4 linked regions of the Homo sapiens genome follow. The protein of the gene in region 3 purifies or fractionates together with the protein of the main gene of each other region. This does not show direct contact. Each region holds a gene or a part of one and is shown on either strand. Other genes may lie near its edges.

Region 1 (7,000 bases), on a different chromosome or scaffold from region 3:
ACAGAAGGGGCAGGAAAGGCAACTAAATAGAAACTCCATTAAAGCTTCAACTGTGACTCAAATTCGAAAAGTCCTGCTGAATTGCATCTTCTGAGCCAGTTTTCTTAAAGCTAGAAATAACTATATAACATAATAGTCAAATGTGAATTCTAGATTTAAAAAAATAGCTCCCAATGATGTGCTAGGAAGCAGTATACTTTTTTCTGTATTTCAATTAGATAAAAAGCAAATTAAATCTTTTTTATATTTCATTTTCCTCATTAGCAAAGTTTTTGAATAATTTTAGAGTCTGCAAAATTTTCCTAAGAATTATGCAAAACTTTAATCTTTTTAACTACTCTCATTTAAACACAGTTTGGTTTGCTTTTAGTTTTAATAAAGTTTATATACTTTTTAAAAACTCATGAAGGAAAAATTCTAAAACACGGAAAAATAGGGAGAGTATAGCCCCATCACCCCAAAATAACAATATTAATATTTTAGCACAAGCTTATTTTCAAAATTAAGTATGCATATTTACATGTATACGTGAGAGGCCCCATAGCTCTTAATTTCTTAAAGGAGTCAATGAATGAAAAAATTAAGCATTTTAGATCTAGTCTAAGATGATGCCCATTTTATAGAGGAGAAAATGGAGTTTCAGAAAGGAAAACTGACTTGCCAAACAACAGCAAGAAACAGAACCCTGAACAGAAAGGTACAGTCTCCCAAATCCTGGGCTGAATACTCTTTCAAATACCATGAGACGTTTTATTTCATTTCATTTAAGATTTTCTTTGCATCCAACCACTGAGTCATCTCTCTATCCAATTAAATATTATTGTGAGCCAGGAGTACTAAGGACACAGAGATAAAAATAGTCCTGCTCAATGCCTAATGGGAATTATCAATACACACATGCAAACACAGAAAATTTTTTAACTGAAATGTTTTACTTGGTGTACATGCAAAATGCAGTGGGAGAGTGTAGTGGTGTAAGACAAGTGTTCCGTACAGAGAAGTGGCAATTGAGCTAACCTTGAAGAACGACTTAGTGTTAGACAGGCAGAAGAGATATCAGGGAGTAGGAATAAGAATGGGAAAATAGCAGCTAAACTGCAAAAGAGCTTAGAACAGGAAGGCAGGAGATAAGACCAGATAGGTAAGTCTGGAGACCTTGAAAGAAAAGGAGTTTAGGTTTTACCTATACAAGATGAGGAACCACAAAACCATTTTACCAAGATTATTCCACAATTAAAACTTATATTTTAGAGAAATCATTTCTTGTGCCAGTGAATGGCAGAGAAAAACAGTAAAAAAAAAAAAAAAAGGGTCGGGGGGGCATGAGCCAAAACCAGAGTAGTAACAGTGAGGATAGAGGGAAGGGGCATGAAAAATATTTAGGATAAGAATAGGCTATTCCATAAAAAAGAGAGCAAGGAGTCTAGAATAACACAGACAATTAATAATAGTGTTGCTATTCACAGAGTACCTTCATATTTTCTAGGATCTGAAATACATCTTAAATTGCTACCAAGGCCGGGCATGGTGACTGGCTCATACCTGTAATCTCAGCACTTGAGGAGGCTGAGGCAGGCAGATCGCCTGAGCTGAGGAGTTCGAGACCAGCCTGCGCAACATGGCGAAACCCTATATCTACAAAAAAGAATACAAAAATTGGCACACACCTGTGGTCCCAGCTACTTGAGAGGCTGCGGTGGGGAGAATCACTTGAGCCTAGGAGGCAGAGGCTACAATCAGCCAAAATCGCCTCGCTGCATTGCAGTCTGGGTGACAGAGTGAGACCCTGTCTCAAAAACCAAAACAAAATTATAAAATTGTTACCAAAATGCTTCACACTATAGATTACCAACTATAGTTCTCAAAAAGCAATTAATGTTCAACCAAAATTGACAATATAGGAGAAATGGAAAGGGGAAAAAAAAAAAAAAAGGAAATGCTGAACTGTTTATGAAAAGCTGGGTTTTAACAGCACATGAAGCAGAAACTGAAAAGTCTTGGATTTGAATTTCTGACCAACAAGTCTTCCTTACAAAGATTTTAATTTCAGAAATAATTTTGGAAACCTACTGATACAGGAGTTAAGTACAGCTGGCTCTCTGTATCCATGGGTTCCATATCTGCAGATTCAACCAACTGCAAATCAAAATTATTTGAAGAAAAAATTAAAAATAAGAATACAACAATAAAAAATACAAACAAGAAACAATATGATGTAACAACTGCATACACAGCATTTCCATTGTATTAGGTATTATGAGTAATCTAGGGATGACTTAAAGTATACGGGAAGATGTGTGTAGGTTAGATGGAAACACTAGGGACTTGAGCATGGTGGGGTGGTATCCTGGAACCAGCCCCCTATGGCTATCAAGGGACAACTGTATCGTATTGCTTAGTAAGTAATGGTTTTATAAAATATTCTTGATATAAACTTAAGTGAAAGTATAATAAATAATGTCAAATGAATTTTGCAATACAAATAACTGGCTTGATGCTACAGGAAAGCAAATTGTGTGCTGGAACAACTACTTGTTAGTGTTTATCTTTAGAAGTGGGAAGCCCTGGTGAGTACCTAAAATATTATTTATTTTTTAAGAGAACAATCACATCTTCAACTCAGCCCTTTAAAAGATTCCAAAGACTGCTGTATCATGGCTGAAGCATTTTAATTTCTGGAAAGATTGTAAGAATAATATTTAAACTTACTTGTGTTAGCTCTTCAGAGAAAATGAAAACATCAAATCTACGGCTATATATTCCATTAACCAGCTTAAGGTAATCACCTCTAAAACAGTGGATTCTACTTCTCACACATAACACACACAGAGAAATAAAAAATGGAAGCTACCAATGGTGGGAGCCAGGTTTCTCACTAGCAGACAAACAAGTGACCCTGTAAACATACTATAAAAACAAAATGGTTATAAAATACTTTGCCAAAACTCACCACAGAGATTATCGACAGAAACAATAATGTTGGCCAGGTGCGGAGGCTCACACCTGTAATCCCAGCACTTTGGGAGGCTGAGGTTGGCGGATCACTTGAGGCCAGAAGTTCAAGACCAGCCTGGCCAACATGGTGAAACCCCGTCTCTACTGAAAATATGAAAATTAGCCGGATGTGGTTGGTGCATGCCTGTAATCCCAGCTACTTAGGAGGTTGAGGCAGGAGAATCACTTGAACCTGGGAGGCGGAGGTTGCAGTGAGCTGAGATTGCACCACTGCACACCAGCCTGGGTGACAAAACTACACTCTGTCTCAAAAAAATAAAACAAAACAAAAAACAGCGCTGGGCACGGTGGTTCACGGCTGTAATCCCAGCACTCTGGGAGGCAGAGGCAGGCGGATCACGAGGTCAGGAGTTCGAGACCAGCCTGGCCAACATGGTGAAACCCCATTTCTACTAAAAATACAAAAATTAGCAGAGCGTGGTGGCAGGCGCCTGTAATCCCAGCTACTTGGGAGGCTGAGGCAGAAGAATCGCTTGAAACTGGAAGGCGGACGTTGCAGTGAGCCAAGATCACACCACTGCACTCCAGCCTGGGTGAAAGAGCAAAACTCCATCTTAAAAAAACAAAACAAAACAAAAAAAACCCAATAATGTCACCTACTATCAATATGAGCTTAACGAAAATTTTTATGTCAGTTGTGACTGAAAAATGTGATAACACTAAACAATAAAAATTCCTATGATAAAGAAAATGAAAAATACAAGCTTAAAAAAGGAAGTAAAACTCCCTAGAAAAAAAAGGGAGGAAAAAAACATTTACTCTTTTGAAAATGAAGCACAACTCTCTTAGTCGTACCTCTGCAATCTAGTATCATGACTGAAATGTCCTCACATCTGAATTTTCCAGGTGTCTGAAGCCTACTTCTTTATCCATCCAACTTCTTCTTTTTTTTTCTTTTTAAAAGGAAAACCTTTCTAAAATACATTAAACATTCCTGACCCTTCTTAAGCAGACCACACTGGAACCTCTTCTTGACTGTGACATCATTGAAAACACAGTTATCCTCTCAGGGCCATGAAACACATAATAAAGCTGTTTCAAATCACCCTACACAAATCGGCTAGTGTGATTTGGTTGAGTCGGCTTTTAAAGCTTTCCTGTTCCCTCCTTGACCACTAAGCTGCTACTGTCACTTCTCACTATTGTCAAATGAGCTTGTCTCTAAGAGCTCATCACCTTGTGTTTAGATTGCCATAAAACCATTCTAATTTGATAGGAAACCTAATATTGAAACTTGTTTGAACTGTATTTTTTGTTAAGTTTAAACACAAATGAAAGAAATGCATGAGCTTTAGTGCACTTAGAGCGCTTAGTGAGTGGAGTGCATGAGCTTTAATGCATGTACGAAGGTGTTCTGAAATGGTTCCATCTTATGTGTTTACTTCTTATTTCTCTCTGTGGTTCCATATAAGGAAAATTTCCAGGAAAACTGAACTCCAGATTTCAGATTCTACTAAATCTTTTTTAACATTTTCTTATTAAAAGTAAAAAACGCCCTCCTTCACACTCAGATCAAGTAAATGGTATATGATATTGTAGGCAGTAAGTATAAAAATACTTAAGTATATGGACATATTTTTCTATTAATGTTGAAACCTTTTCCTCAAATTGCTAAAACATTACAACATTTGCTTTTCTAACATTGAAATTGTTTTCAAAATTTAAGCTAACAATATTATTATGCTGTATAAAGCTGTCACAACCTACTATGATTTCACTAAAACCACACTCACAGACACACGAAAGGTACTCTCTTCATGCCAAATTACATTCATTCTAAAAGTGAATGGGCAGGTAATTACAAGGTGAGACTCCAACCATTAGATTAACTCACAGACCTAATTCCCAAAGGAGATATATATACATATACTGGATCAGAAAGAAATTCTTATTTAAAAATTAGGCCATGCTGATTCATCTTTAATTCCCTATTTTTATTTCATCTACTTTCAACTGATTTGGGAAATTATTTCATTTTTTTACTCTAAAGCCTTTAAAGGGCCTTTTTTTATTTACCAAATCACAGTAATTCATAAACCACAGGTCATGTACCAAATCACTAATAGTTAACTAAAAGCTACTCATTTGATATTTACTCCACACTCATACTAGGGTTGTTGTATTTTAGGAAAAGAATAACATGAATTTTACCATAAACCTTAATTATACACATTGACAGTATTACAATTTTAATCCATTTATAATTACCACTTACTACCAAAGGGGAACAAGAGAAATAGGAATGAGGTAAGTTAAGGAACTACAAATTAATATGCTTCTTATTTTTATGTGACTTAGATATATTAACAGCAGGACCAACTTTGGGGCTCTAAACTTAAAAAAACAAAAAAGCAATGAAATCTTGAAAGTACTCCTGACAAAACAATACCTCCAGAAAGAACATCCACATTAAAACAGGAACAAAACAAGGAGTTCACAATGTTTATCAGATCACAGTATTAAATGTCACTTCTGGGAATATTAATTAACAGCACTAGACAGCTAAGAAAGGTATTTCCTCAGTTAATATGAAATCTCCTTCCAAAAACTTCCATTTTAGTATTTTCTAAAGACAAACTTAATGAATAAGGTATTCATTATAGTATTAATGTTTGATGGTATTCCTTATGGATAAGGTACATTTCATAATTGTTAAGTTCTGTGAGATGCACAGGATACCTGGTTCAGATTTCTACTGATCCCCTGGAGAGATTACAAAGGCCCAACTCTTCCTGTTGTGTAGAGAACAGAACCAATTGGTACGCACTTGGCAGGCCAGAGTTTACATTAGCCATGCAGTAAAGAGTGAAGAATTCTGACAGGGGGGTGGTTAAAAATCAGAATAAGTTATTTAGAGCAGCTGTGAGAGCTCACTCTCTTTAATAATAGAACAGACTCTTATGTGCCGTGGAATGATTTTGAAGTAATGCTATTCAAAATCAAAACTGGACAGCTTCTCAAAGTCCCTTCCAGACCCAGAGACCAAGAACATTTACATCCAACAATACTAGTGAGAACCAAACACATCTCTTCTGCAAAACACTATCTTTACTTAATTGGAGGATATTAACAAGGTGGCTTTCTATGCAGTTGTGTGTTTTGCTAGATATCTGGGTCTTTTTTATCTGCATTCTCCTTGCTTCTACTGAACCGGAAGTTAACAGCTTTCACTGTTCAAATATTAATTTTTAAACCAAACCCTAATTACAGCAGGGCCTCAAACTGATTTACCTAACTAGCTACATGACCTTGGACAGTCTTTTCTTGTAAAATGAGAGGCTTGGACTAAGACCCACTAGAATGTAAACACCACGTTCTGTTCAACACTCTACTCCCTGCCCCTGGGACAGGAAGGCATTAAGAGAAAACCATTGCTATCCCCAAACTACAAATATAAAAAAACTTAAGTCATTTCTTTCTTTTCTAATCAATTAGATTTTATTCTGTTTTTCCCATTTTTAAAGAAGACAATGACACTGAAATGTCCTGTGCAGCAAATAGAAATGTATATAATTTAAAATAAGGTACTCAGTTTTTAGAAATAAAAAGGATTAACTATATAATAGCTGACAATCTTCACCCAGTTTTTTTACTCTTCTTCCTTCCCTTTAACCCATTACTGTGTCCCATTCCTTTTTCCTTTGAAAGAGAGCCCGAAAGAGTGCAGGACTTCAAGCAAAAGGGCCTGAGTACTAGCCCCACCTCTTCTATTAACTGACTCTGTGGGGACAAGCCACTTCCCCTTTGGGGCCCGAAAGGGTGCATCTGTTAAACAAGGGAGCTGCACTAATTATTAATTTCTAAAGTATGCTTCTTTTTAAAAAATCTGATTCACCTTATATTCTACCCATTATTCGATTCTTAATGGTTGGTGCTCACCACATCATTGCACAGTAGCCTTAAAATATGTCTTTCCCTCATTATTTCTCCTTACTATCCATACTGTTACCAAACAAATTTAATCCTAAAACCATGAGTTGAGCAG
Region 2 (7,033 bases), on a different chromosome or scaffold from region 3:
ATTCTCTCTTCCATTTCTGAAGGACTTACTGCACTTGGTAAGCACCTGAGGTGGGTGGGTGAGTTGGTGGGTTTGTTTTTTACCACTTAACTAAACAGAAAGAGAGAATCTTGCCCCAGTGTCCAAAAAGATCACCACTGCCTTGGGGGTTTGGCCATAACAATAGAGTATATAATGCACAGCACATGCTTATCCAGCACACACTCACTGATTCCCTTCCTAAGTACAAGGCCCTGTGGAAGCACTGAGGATACGGTAATTAACAGCATATAGTCCCTGTCCTTAAGGGGCTTATCTGGTGGGTAGAACAGACACATGAACAAACAACTGCCTGTTTACCATACTTACCACTTAAACATTACAATAGGGGTGAGTACAAAGTGCTACACAAGCCCTCAAGAATACCTAGACTCTTGGTTGTGAGGAAGTCAGGATCAAGGAAGACTGGCTGGAAGACTTGGCATCAAAGCATAAACCTAAAAGCTGGACAGATGTTACCCTGGTTAGCCAGGGAGGGTTCCTAGCAGCAGAGACAGCAAGCACTTGCACCTGTAGGCAAGAAAGAACCAGGAAATCCAGATGGCTGGCACACTAGTCCAGAGGAGTTAGGAATGAAATGAAGCTTTAGAGATAAGCAGGAGCAAATCTGGAGATCATGAAGGGGGCCCGCCTGTAAGCCGTATTAGGCTGTTTGAATTCTGTCCTGAGGGCCGTGGAAGCTGGGGAAAGGTTTCATGCAGCTAGCTCCATAAGTTTTTTCATCCTAGTCCATATGGTTTCTGTCAACCATTTTGTTTCTAGGCTACCTTCCAACAATTTTTTTTTTTTTTTTTTTGAGACGGAGTCGCTCTGTCGCCCAGGCTGGAGTGCAGTGGCGCGATCTCAGCTCACTGCAACCTCTGCCTCCCGGGTTCATGCCATTCTTCTGCCTCAGCCTCCCAAGTAGCTGGGACTATAGGCGCCCGCCACCATGCCTGGCTAATTTTTTTGTATTTTTAGTAGAGACGGAGTTTCACTGTGTTAGCCAGGATAGTCTCAATCTCCTGACCTCATGATCCGCCTGGCTTGGCCTCCCAAAATACTGGGATTACAGGCATGAGCCACCGTGCCTGGCCCAACAATCTTAGTAGGTATATGTGTTCAGAGAATAAAACACATTTTTATATTAGGCTGAGCAAAACATAAGTAGGAGGATTAAGTCAACTGCCAAATAGTGATGATATGTTGCAAATACACTTTTGGATTGTCAACTGTGGTGAATTATCCATGCCTCTGTGCGACTTTGATACACATTTACTTCTATCAGTCTATCAGGGTGCATAGCCGTATCTAGTACAGTCCAATCAAGGTATCAGCCCTTGCTTTGGAAGACTTTTTTATGTCTTATTGAAAATACAGGGACCTGGCCGGGCGTGGTGGCTCATCCCAGCACTTTGGGAGGCTGAGGCGGGCAGATCACAAGGTCAGGAGCTCGAGACCAGCCTGGCCAATATGGCAAAACCCTGTCTCTGTACAAAAATTAGCTCGGCGTGGTGGTGTGTGCCTGTAGTCCCAGCTACTCTGGAGGCTGAGGCAGAAGAATCACTTGAACCCGGGAAGTAGAAGCTGTGGTGAGCCGAGATCGTGCCACTTCTGCACTCCAGCCCGGGCGACAGAACGAGACTCCGTATCAAAAAAAAAAAAAAGAAAGAAAAAGCAAGTAGAGGGACGTTTGCATAAACTATCAGTCCCGTAGGAATCAGAGACTTGTTTACTCTTTTAAGGGTTCAGCCCCTTTGTCCTTTGGCCTTACCTCATCAGAGTTCTGTCCACAGGTTGTGCTGTACTGTTCCCTTTGTAAAGACGCATAGATGAGTCTGCAGCTCCCCCCAGAGATGCTTTGGAGATAAACAGATAATACAGCATACCGTGTTCTAACAAACCATAAACATTCAGGGGCTACGTCATTCTGGGTTTAATTACATCCCACTGGTAACTCAGAGCATAGGCTCATACCCCAGGCTTCTTGGATTCTAATCACAGCTCCTGCAATTACTAGCAGTTGATCCTTAGGCCGATACATAACCTCTCCTAATTCTGGTTTCCTCATTTGTAAAACAGAAAACCTAATTCCTGAGTTCTTGAGAGGATAAATTAGAGATAACACCTATAAAGTACTTAGCACAACATCTGGCACAAAAGAAGCACTTGCTGAATCAAACTATTTGTTATTTTGTGTGAGGCAGAAGATGTACGTACATCCACAACACATTGAGCCGATAATTTCAGTATTCTTTATTACCACATACTCACTTTCAAACTTAGAAATTGAGCCCTACTGTACAATGAGGTTAAGAGGTTAACAGGAGTCATCTTGAGCAACCGCCTTGGTTGAATTGGCCACGGTACCCTAATGGATCTCACCCAAAGATAGTCCATATTTGTCCAGGCCACCATCAGCAGCTCTGTCCTACCCCTGCCTTTCTTTCTTGCAGACACCATGGTATGCACAGGCTGCTGCTCCTGCCTGGACCACATTGTGACATACCTCTTCAAGCAGCTGTCACGTAGCACCAAGAAGAGGACCACACCCCTGAACCAGGAGAGCGACCGCTTTCTGCACATCATGCAGCAGCATCCAGAGATGATCCAGCAGGTAAGAAAGTGGAGGCTTAGGAGGCAGTGATGGGGTGTCCGACAGAGGAAGGACCTCTGCAAGACAGGGGAGCCCACACACGATTAACATGACATCTCATCAGGTTCCTGCTGCTGAGATGAAGTCCGTGTCTTAAAGTTGCAGTGGATTTTGAGTTTGCCAAGTAATCACTGGATGTAGAAAACGCTCAGGTTCTGGATTATTCTTCTGAGTGTCACAGTGATCCCTATGCCCTGGACCTGTCTCATGATCACTATCCTCTTTCTGTGAAAATTACTTTGCTCACCCACTGCTATAAATAGAGCAGGAGTTAGCAGCATCCAGCTTTCTAAAGGCTTGTGTTCCTGTTTACAAAACAGGAAGAAGAATGCAAGACAGAAGGAAATAACTGGCCACAGAGAGATCAAACCATATGCTTGCCCTTATTTTATTTGTATGTGCCTTGAAGTAACTTACAGAAATACATGCTAGATGAAAATAGATAAGGAAATGGGATCAGTAATTATTGAGATTTTAGCCAGTCTTACCTTTGTCCACACCGTTCTCTAAAGAAGCAGTGAAATAATTCAGGACTCCATTACATTCACAAGATGTCATAAAGCTGTCAACTCCGAGTACCTGGAAGGGATCATGCAAGGTGGTTTTGCTTACTGTAATTTTGTTTACGTGACCCCATCCCATTCCCCACAACTCAGGGTGACCTGGAAAGATCCATTGGTAAGTGAAGTTCAAACCAATTTTAAGAACAAGAAAGGAAATGAATATCTTAGAAGAAAAGGTAACCTTGAAATAGAAGACTCAGATGAAGCTTCACAAACTATTTGTCTGATTTACCCTATACAGAAAAGGCCTTCAGCCTAATATACTCCTGTATTTGGAATCTGTCGTTTTATCTTGGGTAGCAATACATTAGGTCACTGCCTGAAATTCTCCATTCCATTTTCAGATGCTGTCCACGGTGCTGAACATCATCATCTTTGAAGACTGTAGGAACCAGTGGTCTATGTCCCGACCACTACTTGGCTTGATATTGCTTAATGAAAAGGTGAGAGAGCCAGCTCCCTGGTGCCAACCCAGAAGCAGTGGCAACCACGCACTTGGTATCACCAAGCCCTGGGAGAAATGTGTATAGAAACACCCCACGGTGGTGAAACAGGGAAAATGGGTCATTTACTGAGCAAGTCCCATTTGTGCTTTCAGTATCACATAATCATTTAACTGTTAGAAGTCAGCATGTGTGGTAGCTCACAGACACAGGATAAAGGAGTGTTTCCCCTAGGCAGTAAGAGAAACCTTTCAAGGAAATAATGTACCTGGGTATCAGAGGACCTAAGACCTAAGTTCTAGTTCTAGCTCTGCTATAAACAAGTCTTGAGATTCTGGTAAAAGAAAGGTCTGGATAAGATGACCCTTTTAAAGTGCTTTACAATTTAAAAATTCTTGATATTCTTAGTAGGATGAAGCCATATTATCCCACAAGTGCTTGCCTGAATTTCTTTTTTAAGGGTCCAATTTTAGTAGACATTCCATTCCTCCTTAGAGAAGAACATTCTTCAACCCTGCAGATGACGGAGGGCTAATCTGCCTTCCCCTGCTTCTCTAACCTTCTGTTCCACTCCTTGCCCCACAGTATTTTTCTGACCTAAGAAACAGTATTGTGAACAGCCAGCCACCGGAGAAGCAGCAGGCCATGCACCTGTGTTTTGAGAACCTGATGGAAGGCATCGAGCGAAATCTTCTTACGAAAAACAGAGACAGGTGAGTATAAAGCGTCCTGCCTAGAAATCTCAGACAATTGCTATTTTTCAAATCAACGAAACAGGCAGTTGCTTTAAAGTCTTTGACATCTGTGTTTGGAGGCCATCTAAAGCAATGCAATGCAATAGAAAAGTGAGCCATGTTAAACAGGCAAAATTCATTTTAATAATATATTTTATTTAACCCATTGTATCTAAAATATTGTATCAGTGTGTAATCAGTATTTTAAAATTGTGGGTTTTCACATTCTTTTTGTACTACATTTCCAAAATCCTGTGTACTTTACATTTAACAGCATATCTCAGTTCATACGTTTTCATCAGAAATACTTGATCTGTATTTAGATTTCATAAATTTACAGTTGACAAAGTAGATTCCTGTAATACCCAGATTGTTTCAAACACACCTAGGGACTTTCCAGTAACTGCATTGAGTATCTGGGCTTTGCAATTAACTTTTAAATTTTATTTAATTTTAATTAATTTAAAACAAGGCATTTTAATTTAAAATTAAGATGCAGTTGGGGAGCTGAATGTTAAATTGTATTTAATTTGGATTCATGTTCTCAGTCACACTGGCCATAATTCAGGGGCACGGTAGCCATATGTGGTTAGCAGCCGCCCTATTGGACAGCATAGCACTGCACCACCTGGTCTTGCTGCATTAAGAAATGAGATGGCTTCATTGGCTTACTGCCCTCACGTGTGAGGGCAACTTCCTACTTCTGTCAGTGAGATTTCTTTTGTGCTGCCATGAGCCCAAGGTAGCCCTCAGGGCCCCAGATTTGACCAGATCTCTAAGCCAACTTTTCTCTTAGAGTCTTAAGACTGAAATTAACTGATCTTTGAAACAGAACCCATCAATTCATACATTCTACTTCCCATGCTTTAAAAAAAAAAAAAAAAAAGGCAAATACCTTTCCCCCCCACTCTCCTCCCCCAACCCACATGCATCCTCTCTGCAGGTTCACCCAGAACCTGTCAGCATTCCGTCGAGAAGTCAACGACTCAATGAAGAATTCCACTTATGGCGTGAATAGCAATGACATGATGAGCTGACACCTCCTTGGACTCTACCTGTACAGAGCAGCGTCCCTTTGGTTTGGCCCAGAGGGGCGAACAATTGCAAGGGAGAGGGCCTGGCTGATCCTGGCTCTTTTCTCCAGGGGTGTGGGGAAAATGGCAAAGGTCAACTAGCTGCTTCCCCAGGGAATAGGGGTGTGAGTACACTCACTAGGGGGCAGGGCGCTGCTGGTTCCTGGGGGACTGGGTGGGAAGGGTGGTGGGAGGAGATAAGAGATACAAACTGAGACTCCAGCCTCTCCTCCTGGGGCCACCCAAGTGGGGAGAACCCCTAGTGTCCTGCCACAACCTGCCTTGTATAAACATGTACATTTTTTCATAACATTTTGAACAAGGTTTATATTGACTCAAGTTTAAAAACAAAAAGTGTGACTGAAAAATTTTTACAGAGTCTAGTGCACCAATGCTGATGTGAGGGGTTGTGTATGCGAGTGAAGAAAATGTGTATTCTGGTGGCCTGAAGCTTTACTGGACAAGGATGTGTGAGAGTGCAGAGATATATTTAGTGACACAGTAGAGAGGCAAAAAAAAAGCTAAAATTCCAAATGTATATTTTTTCGTATTGCCCTGTCCTCACCCAGAAATGATCAATTCCTGTTACTGTATTAACCCTTGTTATTAGGAACTCTAAGCCATGCCAGAACACCGTCCCTCCCCTTGGACCGTGTAGATTCTGCCCTGGGTCCCTAGCCCCTTGCAGTGATAAATAACTCCAGCTAAAAGTGTTTGGTGTTCTTATCTCCACCCTCTTTCCTACTTTGCTTACCCTCATCCTCAGACAGATGCCTCTTGCTTTTAAAAGTTGGATTTAACGACGTGTTGTAGGGTTCTTGGTCTGTGTGAAGGCAGAGACCAGAGAGAAGGAAGTGAGCCCACTGCTCTCCTGGGAGCAATGTGGGTGAGTCCACCAGAGGCCCTGCTGTGTGTGGCCAATAAATTTTAGTCTTCCCCAGCCCTCGAGGCAGTGTGTGTGGATGTATGCGTGTGGATATTTATATATGTACCCTGCACTCATGAATGTATGAACTGGAGGAAGTTACTACAGTGGAAGGGTTCTTAATAACAAGGTCTACCTAGCATGAAGTATTTAACATTCTCCCATCCCTTAAAAAATATACATTTTTATAAAATGAAAACCATAATAAATGTTTTGAATATTAAAAAAAATAATAACCTACAGAGGAAAATTAATGGAGACAGCTATTTGCCTTGTACTTTTTCCACAATTGTTGCTGCTAGTTGTACACATCTCTAGTTCAGCTCTTGCCCACGGGACACTCATCAATTAGGTTTTATTTTTATTTCTTTCCTCTACCCCCAGAAACAAGCCTGTTAATTTTTTTTCCTTCTCCTCTGGCGACTGTGTGATGAATCCTTTCTTGCGTGATCAGGTTGCGGATAGACTTGTAAGGGTGTTTGCTGCATACAGTGTAAGCATTGTGACCGCCAATAAACTTCAATGGTTTCTACTGACCTGGCTTCAGCAATCATGTCCAGTGTGCGTCCAAGGACATGTCTCACTCAAAACACATGAAGCTGTGTGAAACATTCTTTAAAA
Region 3 (7,495 bases):
TATTTTCACCATGTTGACCAAGCTGGTCTCAAACTCCTGACCTCAAGTGATCCACCTGCCTCGGCCTCCCAAAGTGCTGGGATTACAGGTGTGAGCCACCGTGCCCGGCCAGGACTGTCTTCTGAGAAGTAACTATATCACTTCTGTGGTCAAGACTCAGGGGACCCAGAGCCATCTCTGGAGCTTGTGGCCAGGTGTAAACCCACAACTCAACATTTTAATATAGATGAATAGATACATCAAGCTGAACAGGAAGGGCAGCCTTCTATAGAAAAGAAATCACTAGAATATAAATAGCAGGAGGAGCACAAGCAGAACAAGCAACCAACTTCTGCCTGAACTCTTCAGAGTTAGCGTTCCCTTTTCAGGACCTGCTTCCCACCCATATCTGTAACACCCATGTTTGGAATTCGCCCCTGCAGCTGCAGCAATGGGACCAGGGGTGCATACCAACCTAGAGCCAATCTGTTATTGACTGGCCAGCAATGTATATGATTATCTCCCTTGAGAGTCTGAGACTGTAGCATGCCCTTGGACAGAAAGGCCATGAGGAATCAGGGTGGGATAGCTGTTGTCAACCATGTAAATGCTGATGAGTAAGTAGAGAGCTGGTTTGCAAAAATAAGTAGTGATGAGAATTCATGGGGACAGGTGAAAAAGAGATGGGGCAGAAAAGAAAGAAAGAATAAGAGAGAAAGAAAAAGGATGAGACAGCACTAGTATTAGCTCTGTTCATTAGCTTTCTAGTCCCCAGTTCTTAACATTTGATTTAATTTTCTTTTTGTAATTTTGTTTTTGGTCAAGAGTGATGGTAGGATGGGAATGAACAGAAAAGGGACTTTATCTTCACTTTTAAGGGTCCCTGAAAAGATCACTCTTGGATATAGGTTTTATTGTAGATTTGAGCTTTTCTCATTAATGAATACTTCAAAACAGTGAGAGTTTCAGAGGTTGTTTCTCTAGAATTAGTTTTGTTATATTGTTTGTTCATTAAGAGGAATAGCATCACTGTGGGACAGAGCTCCCATAGGCATCAGAAGGCCGAGGCAGATACTTATTTCAGATGAATTAGAGAGGAACAAACTTAAGGCAGGAGGAGGCACTGGGAAACACAGGATGTGGATTTTTCCAGTCCCTGCTCAGCCACTCTCATCGTGACCACAGATTCATCCCTTCACCTCTCTGGATCTCTGCCTCCTCTGCTACACTAAGTAGTGGTCATAGTTATATATTTATATCTGGTCACAGATGTTTTATAATCATAGACCATAGATTATAAATATAATAATAGATTATAAAATATCGAATGAGGGTCTTATCCAAAAACATCTTCACATAAAACTTTCATCTCACTCTGAAGGAGAAAAAGTGTGCACTGGGTAAAGACTCTATTGCCTAAGATCTGGAACTTAAATTTGCAGTAATTTCTAATACTTAAGCACATGTACTTTTCTTCCCGATTGTGCAATAAAGGACGGGAAGTAAAAAGGGGAACATTCTTTATGTTCAAATTAAGTCGGCCGGGCACTGTAGCTCACGCCTGTAATCCCAACATTTTGGGAGGCCGAGGTGGGTGGATCACCTGAGGTCAGGAGATCGAGACCAGCCTGGCCAACATGGTGAAACCCCGTCTCTACTAAAAATACAAAAATTAGCCAGGTGTGGTTTTGTGCGCCTGTAGCCCCAGCTACTCGGGAGGCTGAGGCAGGAGAATTGCTTGAACCTGGGAGGTGGAGGTTGCAGTGAGCTGAGATCATGTCATTGCACTCCAGCCTGGGTGATAAAGCGAGACTCTGTCTCAAAAAAAAAAAAAAAAAAAAAAGTCAGAGGCTCATTTAGGATACAAACTAGATGTGAATAAGTATGGGAAATTTAAAAGATAACCAAATTTGAACCTGAAGTGATCAGCATTTGATATCCTACTGAGATGTCAAAATACTGTTTCTCAGAGAAACTGACTTACCTTTCTTTTCTATTACATAGGCAATGCATGTGTATTGCAGTAAAATTCGACCCAAGTATAACAAATGTTTATATTTAGTGTATATATCTTTAAATATATTCTGACGAACCCTATGCCATTTGCTTAGAACAGATCTGATCGTTCATATGCAATGCTTATGTCCTCAACGAGGCTATAAACTCCATGAGGAGAACCCCTTTACCATAAATCCACATGCCTCCCACCCCCACAGTTTGGTCACTTTCTTTGGGAAGGGATGGGGGAAGTTTATAAATGCTTCCTTCACTAGCACCCATGCATGCATTCATTCATTTGACAAACGTTGTATTGAGCACCTAGTATGGACTTGGGCCAGGTGTAGGAGATTCAAAGGTACATCCCTCCCCTCAGCTTTCCTCCCCACTGCCTTTTTTTTTTTTTTTTTTTGAGACGGAGTCTTGCTCTGTCGCCCAGGCTGGAGTGGAGTGGCGCCATCTCGGCTCACTGCAACCTCCGCCTTCTGGGTTCAAGCTATTCTCCTGCCTCAGCCTCCCGAGTAGGTGGGACTACAGGCGCCCGCCACCATGCCCGGTTAATTTTTGTATTTTTAGTAGAGATGAGGTTTCACCATATTGGCCAGGCTGGTCTCGAACTCCTGACCTTGTGATCCGCCCGCCTTGGCTTCCCAAAGTGCTGGGATTACAGGCGTGAGCCACCGTGCCCGCCCCCCCCGGCTCTGGTTTTTTTTTTTTTTTTTTTTTTTAGACAGAGTCTCCCTCTGTCGCCCAGGCTGGAGTGCAGCGGCGCCATCTTGGCTCACTGCAACCTCCACCTCCTGGGTTCAAGCAATTCTCCTGCCTCAGCCTCCCGAGTAGCTGGGACTACAGGCACACGCCACTACGCCCGGCTAATTTTTGTATTTTTAGTAGAGACGGGGTTTCACCAGACGGGGTTTCACTGTGTTGAGCAGGATGGTCTCGATCTCCTGACCTCATGATCCTACCGCCTCGGCCTCCCAAAGTGCTGGGATGACAGCCGTGAGCCACCGCGCCCGGCCCTGCATGCCCTTTATGACATACCTTTTAGGCCAGGCGCGGTGGCTCATGCCTGTCATCCCAGCACTTTGGGAGGCCGAGGCGGGCAGATCACCTGAGGTCAGGAGATCGAGACCAGCCTGCCCAACATGGTGAAACCCCGTCTCTACTAAAAATACAAAAATTAGCCGGGCGTAGTGGCAGGCGCCTGCAGTCCCAGCTACTCTGGAGGCTGAGGCAGGATAATCACTTGAACCCGGGAGGCGGAGGTTGCAGTGAGCCGAGATGGCACTGCTGCACTCCAGCCTGGGCGACAAGAGCAAAAACTCCATCAAAAAAAAAAAAAAAAAAAAAAGATATACCTTTTTGATCTCAAGAAAGTCACAGTTCAAATAGGGAAACAATACACAATTAACTATTTTACTAAGTACTTGTGCAATTTTAGAGCCATATGTGAAAGTCTTAAGAAAACACAGAAGCAGCCTGGGGTGCGGTGGGTCCTGCCTGTAATCCCAGCACCTTGAGAGGCTGAGGCAGGATGATCGCTTGGGCCCAGGAGTTCAAGACCAGCCTGGGCGACATAGCAAGACCCCATTTCTACAAAAGTAAAAAAAAAAAAAAATAGGTGGGCATGGTGGTGCTTGCTTGTAGTTCCAGCTACTCAGGAAGGAGGCTGAGGCAGGAGGATCGCTTGAGCCCAGGAAGTCAAGGTTGCAAAGTTGCAAGGTTGCAGTGAGTTATGATTGTGCCACTGCAGCCTGAGTGACATAGCGAGACCCTGTGAAAGAAAAAGAAAGAAAGAAAGAAAGAAAGAAAGAAAGAAAGAAAGAAAGAAAGAAAGAAAGAAAGAAAGAGCACAGAAGAGGATTGGGAGGTTATGGGGTACAATTCTTGAGGGGGTGACCCTGGCCAGGCGATGAGAGGGCGGTAGGAAGGGTGATGAGGGGAGAAGAGGATTTAGAAATACAAATTTCAGGGTCTTCTTGTGTCAGCGGGAATTTCTGTCCCTCACAACTTTCATCATAAGATAAATCTAATGTTCAACTAGAGATCTCTCCCGCGCCTTGAACTTGCAAATTTATGAATCAGGGGCAAAAAAAACCCGGATACCGAGCCTGGCCTCCCACCAGCTAGAGAACCCACCAAGTTCCAGGAGGGGCGGGGCCGAGGGCGGTCCGTGCCACAGCTGTGGGCGGGGTTGTCCGTGCTTGCGCCAGAGCCGGCCCGCCCCGCCGCCAGGGGCTGTCGCAGGAGCCAGGCGTGGATTGGTATGTGGGTATGTCGGCCTCTCTTCATAGGCCGCGCAGGATTGCTCGAGAGGCTTTGATTGGCTCAACAGGCGCTGAGCGTTCATTGGCTGCGCTGGGTCGTCAGGGCGACGAAAAAGGGGAAGGGGTGCTGGGCCTGGCGGGCAAACTAAGGCTGCGGACCGTTGGGCGGTTCCGCGGGGCGTTGTCCGGAGAGCTGCGAGGCCGGGGTTCCCAGGGTTCACGCCACACTCTAGGAAGTGCCTGAGCTAGTGAGCTGGCCAACGAGCTCCGCGGGCTGGGACCATGGGCTGCTTCTTCTCCAAGAGACGGAAGGCTGACAAGGAGTCGCGGCCCGAGAACGAGGAGGAGCGGCCAAAGCAGTACAGCTGGGATCAGCGCGAGAAGGTAATGAAAGTCGTGTAGCCGCCGTCTCAGCCTCCCTGAGCCGCTCCGCCAGGTCCCTTACGGCCCGGGACCGCTGAGGGGGCCGACCCAACTGCTGCCGCACTCTCTTGAACGCGGATAGCTGAAGTCGGGGTGCACGACTTTTTTGGGGAGCGGGGACGTGAAGTACAGCGCTAGAGAGGCCGCCCAGAGGGCTGTGGAGCTCCGGAAGGAGCCTTAGGAGTTTGTTGTCGTGGTAGACAGACTCCCCCGGGAGCTTTCTCTGACTCCGAACCCTGCCTTGCTCTGACTTCCTGTTGGAGATGATCGATTCGAGAGAGGGAAAGAGCCGAGAACGCCCTGAATCTCAAATCACCTCGTTTCACCCACCGGCAGCGTCAAGCGGGGTTTTGTCCAGTCGTCGAGTTACGTATATGGGACCGATTCTCATCTCTTCCGGGGCTTAATGTTCTGTGGCTGTTTTCTCTTTTGTCTGCCCTCCCCGGCAAATCTCTTTGGTGCCTCATGATATATTTCACTGCTGAATTTTCTCAATTACCAAGTGGACTGTTTAATGTACAGCTTTACTCCCCCTCCTCTTCCAGTTATCCGAAAGAAATAATGAATATCGCATCAGTCTTGGAATGTGTATTAAGACTGTAAGGTGAAAATAAGCGGCATAAACCAGGCAGTATTTTACTGCTGGTTTAAATGAATGAAAACGCCCTTATTTTTATTTTTGTATATAGCCAGAAACGAAAAACCTTTGAAAACCTCCATTAGTCTTACACAAAACACACTCGGTCATACATTTCATAATAGTTCCTCTTTCTACATAGTTCTCCATTTGTGCTTACTAAACTACTTTGATGGACTTATCAATTATTTCTCCCAAACAAAATGAGAGATTTTTCAAATGGGTATTATGAACAGTTAACTCTTTGCTTAAGGCAACATATCTTTACCCAAGATTACTTTATAATAAATGTATTAACGTTTTGGAATCACAGACCTTTCTGCATGATTTCCAATCCCCAGCAGAATGTATTCAGGTAAGCTCTGGTCTCTAAGAGTCAGAGTTAGGAAATTGAAAGCTTTTTGCAGCTTTTCTCAGCCCCGTCTTTCTGCCCCTACTTCTCATACACACCCTTCTTGGGTCACATGGTACCTTTATTCTCTGTTAGTCATACTCGATAGTAGCATTTTATAATGTAGGGGAAGAAAGTACTATGCTTTCTATTTCACAAGAAGATTGCACCTGCCATTTAAAGTTATCTGATGGGCGGTTTTTAAAAGATATTGTTTTCCTCAGCCTTTGGCTTTCTAACAATGTTCTTTTAGCTTGAATTGTCTGCCTTAGAGAAAGTTGCATATTTCATTTTTATTTTAGTTTTTTCTTTTGAACTCAGGCTAAATCTAAACTAAATAAAATGCCTTTTTTATTTATAGTAGTCTTGGCTGCCTATGACTCATCGTTTCACAATAAATTGTTTTACAGTTAATGTTTATTAACATAATATTCAGGTTAGTTAGGACTTCTCATGTTAATCCTTCTTTTAGATAAGTGTGTGTGTCCTGTGATTTTTTTTCTTCTTTTGCCCATTGGCTAAGTAAATGCATTGAGAAATATAACATTGGACACCAACATCTAAGCTTTTTCCCCACAAATGAGTGTGTAATAAACTTTCAATTGTAGAAACTGTTTTGAGCTTACAGAGAACCTTTTTTTTTGAGAACACTACTAAGTTCTGTAGTTGTAGAGTTGTAAGAGATGTTATTGGATATATAAAATAAGCTCATGCTTCTGAGTGTGTGTATAATAAAAGTTAAAATCTTGATCAACTCAGCCAATCAAAATGAGAATTTCTAACCAAATGAGCATTCTGAAAAAAACCCCAGTTTTAAAATATTTTGGACTGTTGAAGAGAATTACCAGCTTACATTTTGAGACAATGCAGATACCACATTTCCCAACATAGCTTTTTCTTTTTAGTTTTTTTTTCTTTTGGAATTACTAGGAATTCTTTCTAAGTTGCCTCATTTTGATAGCTTGTTAAATTTTATACAATTTAAAATATTTTTTTCTAGGGCCAGGCATGGTGACTCATGCCTGTAATCCCAGGACTTTGGGAGGCCAAGGCTGGTGGCTCTCTTGAGCCCAGGAGTTCCAGACCAGCCTGGGCAATATGGCGAAACCTCATTCCTACTAAAAATACAAAAATTAGTGGGGCATGGTGGTGCACACCTGTAGTCCCAGCTACTCAGTAGGCTGAGGTGGGAGGATCACCTGAGCCTGGGACTTAGAGGCTGCAATGAGTCATGATCGGGCCACTGCCCTCCAGCTTGGGCAACAGAGTGAGACCCTGTTTCCAAAAAAAAAAAATAAATAAATAAAATATTTTTTCCTAGTTCCTTGCCTCCCGTGAGGTTAATTTGGGCTAGTGTGCAAATGTTCTGTATTAGTCCAATGATACGTTTACTGAGCATGGCCTTGCTTGCTCCTAGAAGATTTCAGTTGTACCTTAAAAGGAACAGATTGCAAATACAGCCCAGAGAACATAAATGAGATATGATGCATGCATATTAATAGAAATGATTTATATTAAAAGTTTAGGCTTCTGGAATGTGGTTATGGATTATAGCATATACAGTTTTAAAGTTATATCAGACAATTACCATTCAACTTGTAAGACTTTTACATGTAAAAACAAAATGGGTTGCCTGAAAAATTTCCTTGCAGCTTAGAAAAGGGTGTTTACATTTTTCCTTAGGTTGTGTAATCAGAGTATCTTTTTTTGATGTTTTCTTTTTGAGATGGAGTCTGGCTCTGTCATCGCCCAGGCTGGAATGCAGTGGCGCGATCTCGGCTCACTGCAACCTCTGCC
Region 4 (7,220 bases), on a different chromosome or scaffold from region 3:
TTCTCTCTTTTTCTGTTGTTTTAAATTTTTTGTAGAAACAGGGTCTCATTATGTTGCCCAGGCTGGTCTTGAACTCTTGGGCTCAAGTGATCCTCCTGCCTCAGTCGCCCAAAGCACTAGGATTACAGGTGTGTGCCACTGGGCCTGGCCTAAGGGGACCTTTGATTAATGTTTGGCCTGCATCAAACTGGGATGTAAGTGAGAAATAAACTTTTATTTTGTTAGAGCATTGAGATGTTGAGGTTGTTACAATATTTTAGCCTAGCCTGCGTCATGAGATTTGTTATATGGGTTGAAGGTTGACTATCCTCACTGCCTGATAATCTGATGTGCTCATCTCCCCAGGAAAGACAAACTGCTACATGGCCCTGATGAATACTTCCATTGGCTGCTGGGTACTCACCTTCCTGAAGAGGACCTGGCTAAGCAAGGTAATATTTGGGTTTTAGGCTTCTTTTTTTCTCTGGTTTCTTGGTTGATATTTTAATTGACAGAGTTTTCTTTATCTATGTCAGTGCCTCTAGGCAGACAATGATGTCTTATTCACTAGAAAGATTTTTCCTAAGCAGAAGTTGCCAAAATATGACAAACTAGGGGAAAAAGTTATGACTTGGGAAGGCATGATAAAAGGGTAATTTTCTTAATTTATAAAAGGATCTTATAAATTAACAAAAAAATAGATAAGTTGATTCAAATCAGAAGGGAAAAAAGATATGCAAACAGCCAATTAGACTCATGAATCCTCAACCTTTGATATGGTTTGGATCTGTGTCCCCAACCAAATCTCATGTTCAATTGCAACCCTCAGTGTTGGAGTTAAGGCCTGCTGGGAGGTGATTGGATCATGGGGCTGGTTTCTCATGGTTTAATACCATTCCCCTTGGTGCTATCATCCTGAGAGTGAGTTCTCATGAGATCTGGCTGTTTAAAAGCATGTGGAACCTCCCCCCTCTCTCTGGGTCCTGCTCCTATCATGTAAGACATCCACTGCTGCTTTGTCTTCCACCATGAGTAAAAGCTCCCTGAGGTCTCCCAGAAGCAGAAGCCGCCGTTCTTCCTGTACAGACTGCAGAACTATGAGCCAATTAAACATTTTTTCTTGATAAATGACCCAGCTTCAGGTATTTCATTATAGCAGTGTGAGAATGGACTAATACAGCCTCTCATCACCCCTCACTAATTCTACAAATGAAGATGCTGGGCTGCAAATGTACACATTACTGATAAGGAATTTCCCTGCTCCCCTGAAGGCACCCCCAACCCCAGCATTGGTGAAGCTTAAACAGGGCAGGCTATGATAGATAATGGCTGGTGAAGACAGCAAAGACTTGGCAGCACTCACCATGGCAAAGTTCCTCACTTGATGTCTATCCCCATCATTTTGCACATGAGGAGGTGGAAGCATGGAAAGGTCAAGTTACCCATCTATCTAGGTAACTATTTCTTCTTTGATGTCTCAAAGATACCTCTCACTCGCTGTTCACAATAGGCTCATCATCTTTTTTCCCAGACTATCTTCTTCTCTTGAATTCTCTTTTTTTTTTTTTTGAGACGGAGTCTCTCTCTGTCGCCCAGGCTGGAGTGCAGTGGCGCGATCTCGGCTCACTGAAAGCTCCGCCTCCTGGGTTCACACCATTCTCCTGCCTCAGCCTCCCAAGTAGCTGGGACTACAGATGCCCACCACCATGCCTGGCTAATTTTTTGTATTTTTAGTAGAGACGGGGTTTCACTATGTGAGCCAGGATGGTCTCGATATCCTGACCTCCTGATCCGCCCACCTCGGCCTCCCAAAGTGCTGGGATTACAGGTGTGAGCCACTGTGCCCAGCTTCTCTTGAATTCTTAATCTCTGAGAATGGTACCCCCATCCCACCCCAGACTTTTATGCCACAGAGCCAGGAGGCCCCGTGGGCTCTTCCTCTCCCTCTGGCTCTGTGTTCTGTCATCACTATCTCTTGTTAATTCTGTCCCCTGACCATCTCTCCTAACCACATGTCTATCTCCAGCCCCACTGTTATTTTTCCTTGATTTGGAATTACATCAGCCTGAACTAGGGCATTTGCAACTCATCTAACCATCTTTGGTGTTACTCTTTCTCAGAGCAGCCAGAATGGCCTTCCTAGCACCCAAGTCTAATCATGCCAGACTGTTGTTCAGAATTCTGAGGTGTCTCCACATTAAGTAGAGATAAGATGCCTGTTGATCTGACCTCTGCCCACCTGTCCTGCCTCAACTCCCGCCACCTGCTGCATGCACAGGTACATCCTAATACAGCTGGATTGCTGGTGGTTGCCCAAACATGCCACACTCTCTTGTTCCTTCCATTTTTTCAGGCTATTGCACGTGCTGCTCCTTTTGCCCAGAATCCTCTCCTTTACCCATCTCCAAGCCCCTCCTCATGTTCAAGTCTCAGCTCCAAAGCTCCGCCCTCTGAAAACAGCACTGTCCTGAGATTCAGCTGCTCTTTTGCCTCTGCATCCTCTGCATCTTGACCTTGCTTCTCCTCTGACATTATCCTCTAGACTTGCAGGGGAGGTGTCAGTCTTCTGGGGAGTCAGTGAACTGGATGGAAGGGCAGCTTCTTCTAAACTTTAAATCCCCAGTGCCAATCTAGGACGAAGCCTGGTGAATGATCAATATCTATGTGGTGAAAGAAAGAGATGATTAATCAATAAGACATTTGCCCTGTCTGGGAGCTCACGTATAGCGAGGCGATGGCTTTGTAAGCCCCTCACTCTGACAGCAGGCTTGTGGGCAGGGAGGACTCTGACCCTCCTCAGGAGTTGGGAGAGGCAAAGGGGGTCAGCTACAAGTGTACACACATCACATTCACCACACCATGCTTAAAAAACAAATCCATAAGTCGCAGCTGCCAAGCATGATGTAAATGTATGGGGATTGAGGGACTAATTCTGCTGGCCTGAGGTTTTTTCCTGGGTGGGGAGAGATTCAGGCCCTGTTTTGTCTTTCACTTTTCACAAGGAACAGCCAAAGGGAACCTGGCTCCTCTGGTTCTCCATCCTTCCCGGAGTCTCTTCCCACACTCCAGAACGGGCCCCTTTCTCTGGAGGTGGCCAGCCCAGATTTGGGGGGTGGCCCACTGGTTGGCCTCCTTAAACTTTCCTAGAACTGTGCCACAGTTTAAGGGACAAACTTTTGAAAAACAGAACAACAACAAAAAACTTGAAAGACTTCAAACCTTAATTTGTCTGAGAAAATCCACTGTTAACCCAATAGCTTGCTTGAATGGAGGTGTTAAAGATCAACAAAGCCAGACATTAGTTAAACCATGAAAACAGATTTTACTCAGTAACTACTTACAGTAGGAGAAAAAGCTGATCATTCTCATTTGTGCATAGCAGAATGGGCGTTTTAAAGGGTGAAGGAGAGAATAGGGCCGGGAAGCTAGCAGGGGATCAAGTGAAAAATCATGAAGGGGCGGTCAGTATTAATGACGGGCAGCTGTGCCTGGAGCTGGCCGTTATGAAGCTGGGATTCTATCCTCCCACAGAGACTGGGGGACAGAGGCCTATCCTCCCCATGACTGCATTTCAGAGCAATGGCTTTCAGGTCCTTGAGAAAGACACTTCTGAGGTGTAGGCGATACATATACATCTCAAAGCAACAGAGAAAGGATTCACAGTTGTAAGCCCTTTTAAGAAAATATCCTAAAAAAGGGAGGTCAGGGGCTTTACCATCGGGTGTTGGCTAGAATAAACGGGGAATTCTCCTGGCTGCCTTGAGCTTTCTCGGGAAGACATTTTACTGGGGTCGAGGTTAGGCGGCAGCGGAGGGTGGGGGACCTTGAGTCATGCTCCTATAAGCCACGCTAGAGTTCCTCGTCTTTGAGTGCAGAGGTTTAGACTGTGTCTTTGTGTGCAGAAAGTCCTGCAGTTCTCACAGCGACCTGCCAGAAAAAGTCGTTCCCAAATGTTTGTAAATCCTCCGTTGGGCAACCCGCCTTCACGTTCTGCGGTGATCTTGTCGAGCGACTAAGCGTGCAGTATTAGCAGAGAAGGGGGTGGCAGAGTGCTGGCGCTGAAGGTCATGTTGCATGGGTAACTGTCGTGTTGTAGGGGCGGGGAAGAGGGAGGAGACACTGACCACCCCAGAGGCCGCCCCATTAGCTCGCTTGCTTTGGGCGGCGTCGCTCCCACGGCGCCCAGGGTACCCCCGCCGCTGTCTGCCTGTCTTCCTCCATTACCGCGCAGGCTTGGTCACCGCATTAAGGCATTCCCGCTCTCCGCGGAACTGCTCTGCCGTCTCGGCGGTGAAAGTGTGAGAGGGTCCGTAGTTGGGTCAACTTTGACTCCTCTCGCCTGCCCGGATCCTTAAGGGCCTCCTCGTCCTCCCGGTCTCCGGTCGCTGCCGGGTCTGTGCGCCGGTCCGCGCCCGCCCTCGCTCTGCCATGGGCGCTTCCAGCTCCTCCGCGCTGGCCCGCCTCGGCCTCCCAGCCCGGCCCTGGCCCAGGTGGCTCGGGGTCGCCGCGCTAGGACTGGCCGCCGTGGCCCTGGGGACTGTCGCCTGGCGCCGCGCATGGCCCAGGCGGCGCCGGCGGCTGCAGCAGGTGGGCACCGTGGCGAAGCTCTGGATCTACCCGGTGAAATCCTGCAAAGGGGTGCCGGTGAGCGAGGCTGAGTGCACGGCCATGGGGCTGCGCAGCGGCAACCTGCGGGACAGGTACAGCACAGCGCGGGCGCGGGGCAGCGCGGAGCCTGCCTGGGATGAGGAGCGGGGGGGCAGGTGGGGCCCGATCTATCTGGGAAGGACTATAGAGGTTTGCCACCTGAGTTTCTGGGCTGACTGTTGGGCCGTTGGTCGTTTATCTGGGAAGGCCAAGTTCATGCCAGGTTTATTTTTGGTAAAGTAGGTAGGGGCAATCCCTTGCCCTTCCCTAGACGAGAGATTCCTCCTCTGTAACAGGAGGGGGTCTGACCTGTATCTCCAAGTCTCCTTAGCTCTAAAGTTTGTGATTCTATCCTAGTATACCAAAGTAGAAAAATAAAGCTATTGGCACTAGAAAGCAGCAAGAAAGAAACCAAGTGTTGTTCAAGGACATTGGCTTAGGCCTTGCTGGGCCTTGTTCCTCACATTTCTCCAATCCTGGGGGTGCCCTGGAGGCCTGATACACTTTGATGAAGGATGAGCAAGTGGCATGGGGACTCTGGGGCAGAGGTGATACTTGCCATTAAGGGAATAGTGTCCCCCCTTCTCCCATAGGCAGAGTTGTTCACAGCCTGGAACTTTGGGACTTTTGGGCCTGACACATAGACATTTCATACTTAGGATTAAGATGCCTTCTTCTTTTTTTTTTTTTTTTTTTTTGAGACAGAATCTCACTTCGTAGCTCAGGCTGGAGTGCAGTGGCACTATCTCAGCTCACTGCAACCTCCATCTCCCAAGTTCAAGCAATTCTCCTGCCTCAGCCTCCCAAGTAGCTGAGATTACAGGTGTGCGCCACCACGCCCGGCTAATTTTTGTATTTTTAGTAGAAACGGGGTTTCACTCTGTTGACCAGGCTGGTCTCAAACTCCTGACCTCAGGGAATCCACCAGCCTCGGCCTCCTAAAGTGCTGGGATTACAGGTGTGAGCCACTGTGCCCAGCCAAGATGTCTTCTTATCTGGCCGAGATGGTTTAGCTGTGGGCCTGTGTCCGAGGGGAGGGAGGTTTGCAAGTTGATCATTCAAGGATTCCTCTAGCAGAGAGCCACCTGCATCCCTGTGTTCACTCCAGGACACGCGGATGCACTGTTTTCTGAAGACTGCTGCCCTCTTAAAGAAATGTGGACTTCCATGGTGTTGGAAAACTTCAGAGAGTCTTAGAGAAGTGTTGTGTACACAGACCATATGAATCATGGGAGGATTTTCATTCTCCCACCCTTACCCCAGATTTCTTATCCTGGAGAGCTTTTTCAACTATAACTTCCTGAGATTCCCATCCCAGGACTACGGAAGCAGAATCACCAAGAGTGGGGCCAACTCGTGTAGAATGTTTAAATCTCCCCCTGGTGATTTTGATGCTATAATTAAAGGATTTTATCCGAGACCATGAAGAAGAAGAGGATGTTTAGAGCTTATTCAAATATGAAGGATAAGAAAAGCCTTCCTATTACTGGAAAGACTTCAGGCTGTGTGGGACTGGACACCTTCCAAAAAACTGGGAGAACCAAATTCTCACGATGCATGTCCAGAGAAAATTAGTGTTGCAGGCTAGGTTGCACTACTTCCTTCCTCGCTTGAAGGGTTGGTTTCACAGACAGTTTCCAGTTCTAATCTGCGTTTCCTCTGATCACCTGAAGAACGGTTTCTTTCCCACTTCTCTTTGTCACTGCTTTGCCATGACTACTGCAACCATGGAAAGAAAATACGTGTCCTTTGCCTGTGCTTTTTGCTCCCACTGGCATCCTAAAATAAATACAACTGTATTACCTTTCCCTTGTTTTAAACAATAAACGCTTAGGATGGGGTGGGGTGATGTGAAGCCTGGGGTAGAGGGAAAGGCAATGAAATTAATGTTATTCAGTGTTAAAATGCAGCAGACACTGAGCTAAATCCTGTCGCATAGATTAGCATATTTAAACCTCATAACAATCTTGTGGGCTAGATAGTATTATCACCATTTTGCAAATAAGGAAACAGTATCAGAATGAAGGAGTATCCCATCCAAGGCCAGAAAACCAGTGTGTGCTGTGGGGATGTGAACTCAGATCTGTGTGAGTACAGAACTTATGCTGTTTGTATGAAACCAGTGCATGATATAAAACTATAAGGATTGCACTGAGGATCAGGAGACTTTGGGCGAACTTCTACAAAGTTGTCTCATTTGCAAAAGAATGAGGTTGAACTTCATGGTCTCTAAAGCCCCATTTTAACTACATTTTATTTATCAAAGCATAATTAACAATTTGAAAGCAGGCTTGCTGGAGAGAACTCTGTTTGATAGCCGCTGTCTTCTCCACCTGACAATTTAATAACACTACTACAAATGTTCCTAGAGTTCAGGGAAAGGCCTCATTTAATGAATTCCATTCTGAACCTGTGTCTTTGGAACTAACTGTTCCAAGGAGCTGGGATTTTCCTCTGGAAGTGCTCTGGGTCTCAAATTTCTAAAGGTATTTTGTTCAAAGCTCTTAGTATACTTGTGAACACTTGGCTTGAGCACCCTAAGCATTGAGTGTTTAAAGTCCACCTGGCAGAATGCTGGCATTCGGTGCCTGGTG

What was found.
Region 1: the proteins of RP2 (region 3) and USP24 purify together in Homo sapiens (affinity purification with mass spectrometry; 3 studies listed by BioGRID and IntAct, with this or other methods). This does not show direct contact.
Region 2: the proteins of RP2 (region 3) and XPO7 purify together in Homo sapiens (affinity purification with mass spectrometry; 3 studies listed by BioGRID and IntAct, with this or other methods). This does not show direct contact.
Region 4: the proteins of RP2 (region 3) and MTARC2 purify together in Homo sapiens (affinity purification with mass spectrometry; 4 studies listed by BioGRID and IntAct, with this or other methods). This does not show direct contact.

What each region holds. Positions count from the first base shown.
Region 1 is NC_000001.11:55,205,365-55,212,364, forward strand, and holds part of USP24 (ubiquitin carboxyl-terminal hydrolase 24), read right to left. Parts: intron 1-7,000. UniProt on the Homo sapiens protein: Ubiquitin-specific protease that regulates cell survival in various contexts through modulating the protein stability of some of its substrates including DDB2, MCL1 or TP53.
Region 2 is NC_000008.11:21,999,638-22,006,670, forward strand, and holds the end of XPO7 (exportin-7), read left to right. Parts: coding exon 1-37; intron 38-2,474; coding exon 2,475-2,635; intron 2,636-3,581; coding exon 3,582-3,680; intron 3,681-4,265; coding exon 4,266-4,393; intron 4,394-5,357; coding exon 5,358-5,451; 3' UTR 5,452-6,948; downstream 6,949-7,033.
Region 3 is NC_000023.11:46,832,572-46,840,066, forward strand, and holds the start of RP2 (protein XRP2), read left to right. Parts: upstream 1-4,471; 5' UTR 4,472-4,529; coding exon 4,530-4,631; intron 4,632-7,495. UniProt on the Homo sapiens protein: Acts as a GTPase-activating protein (GAP) involved in trafficking between the Golgi and the ciliary membrane.
Region 4 is NC_000001.11:220,744,125-220,751,344, forward strand, and holds the start of MTARC2 (mitochondrial amidoxime reducing component 2 isoform a precursor), read left to right. Parts: upstream 1-4,197; 5' UTR 4,198-4,407; coding exon 4,408-4,679; exon of another isoform or gene 4,680-4,691; intron 4,692-7,205; exon of another isoform or gene 7,206-7,220. UniProt on the Homo sapiens protein: Catalyzes the reduction of N-oxygenated molecules, acting as a counterpart of cytochrome P450 and flavin-containing monooxygenases in metabolic cycles.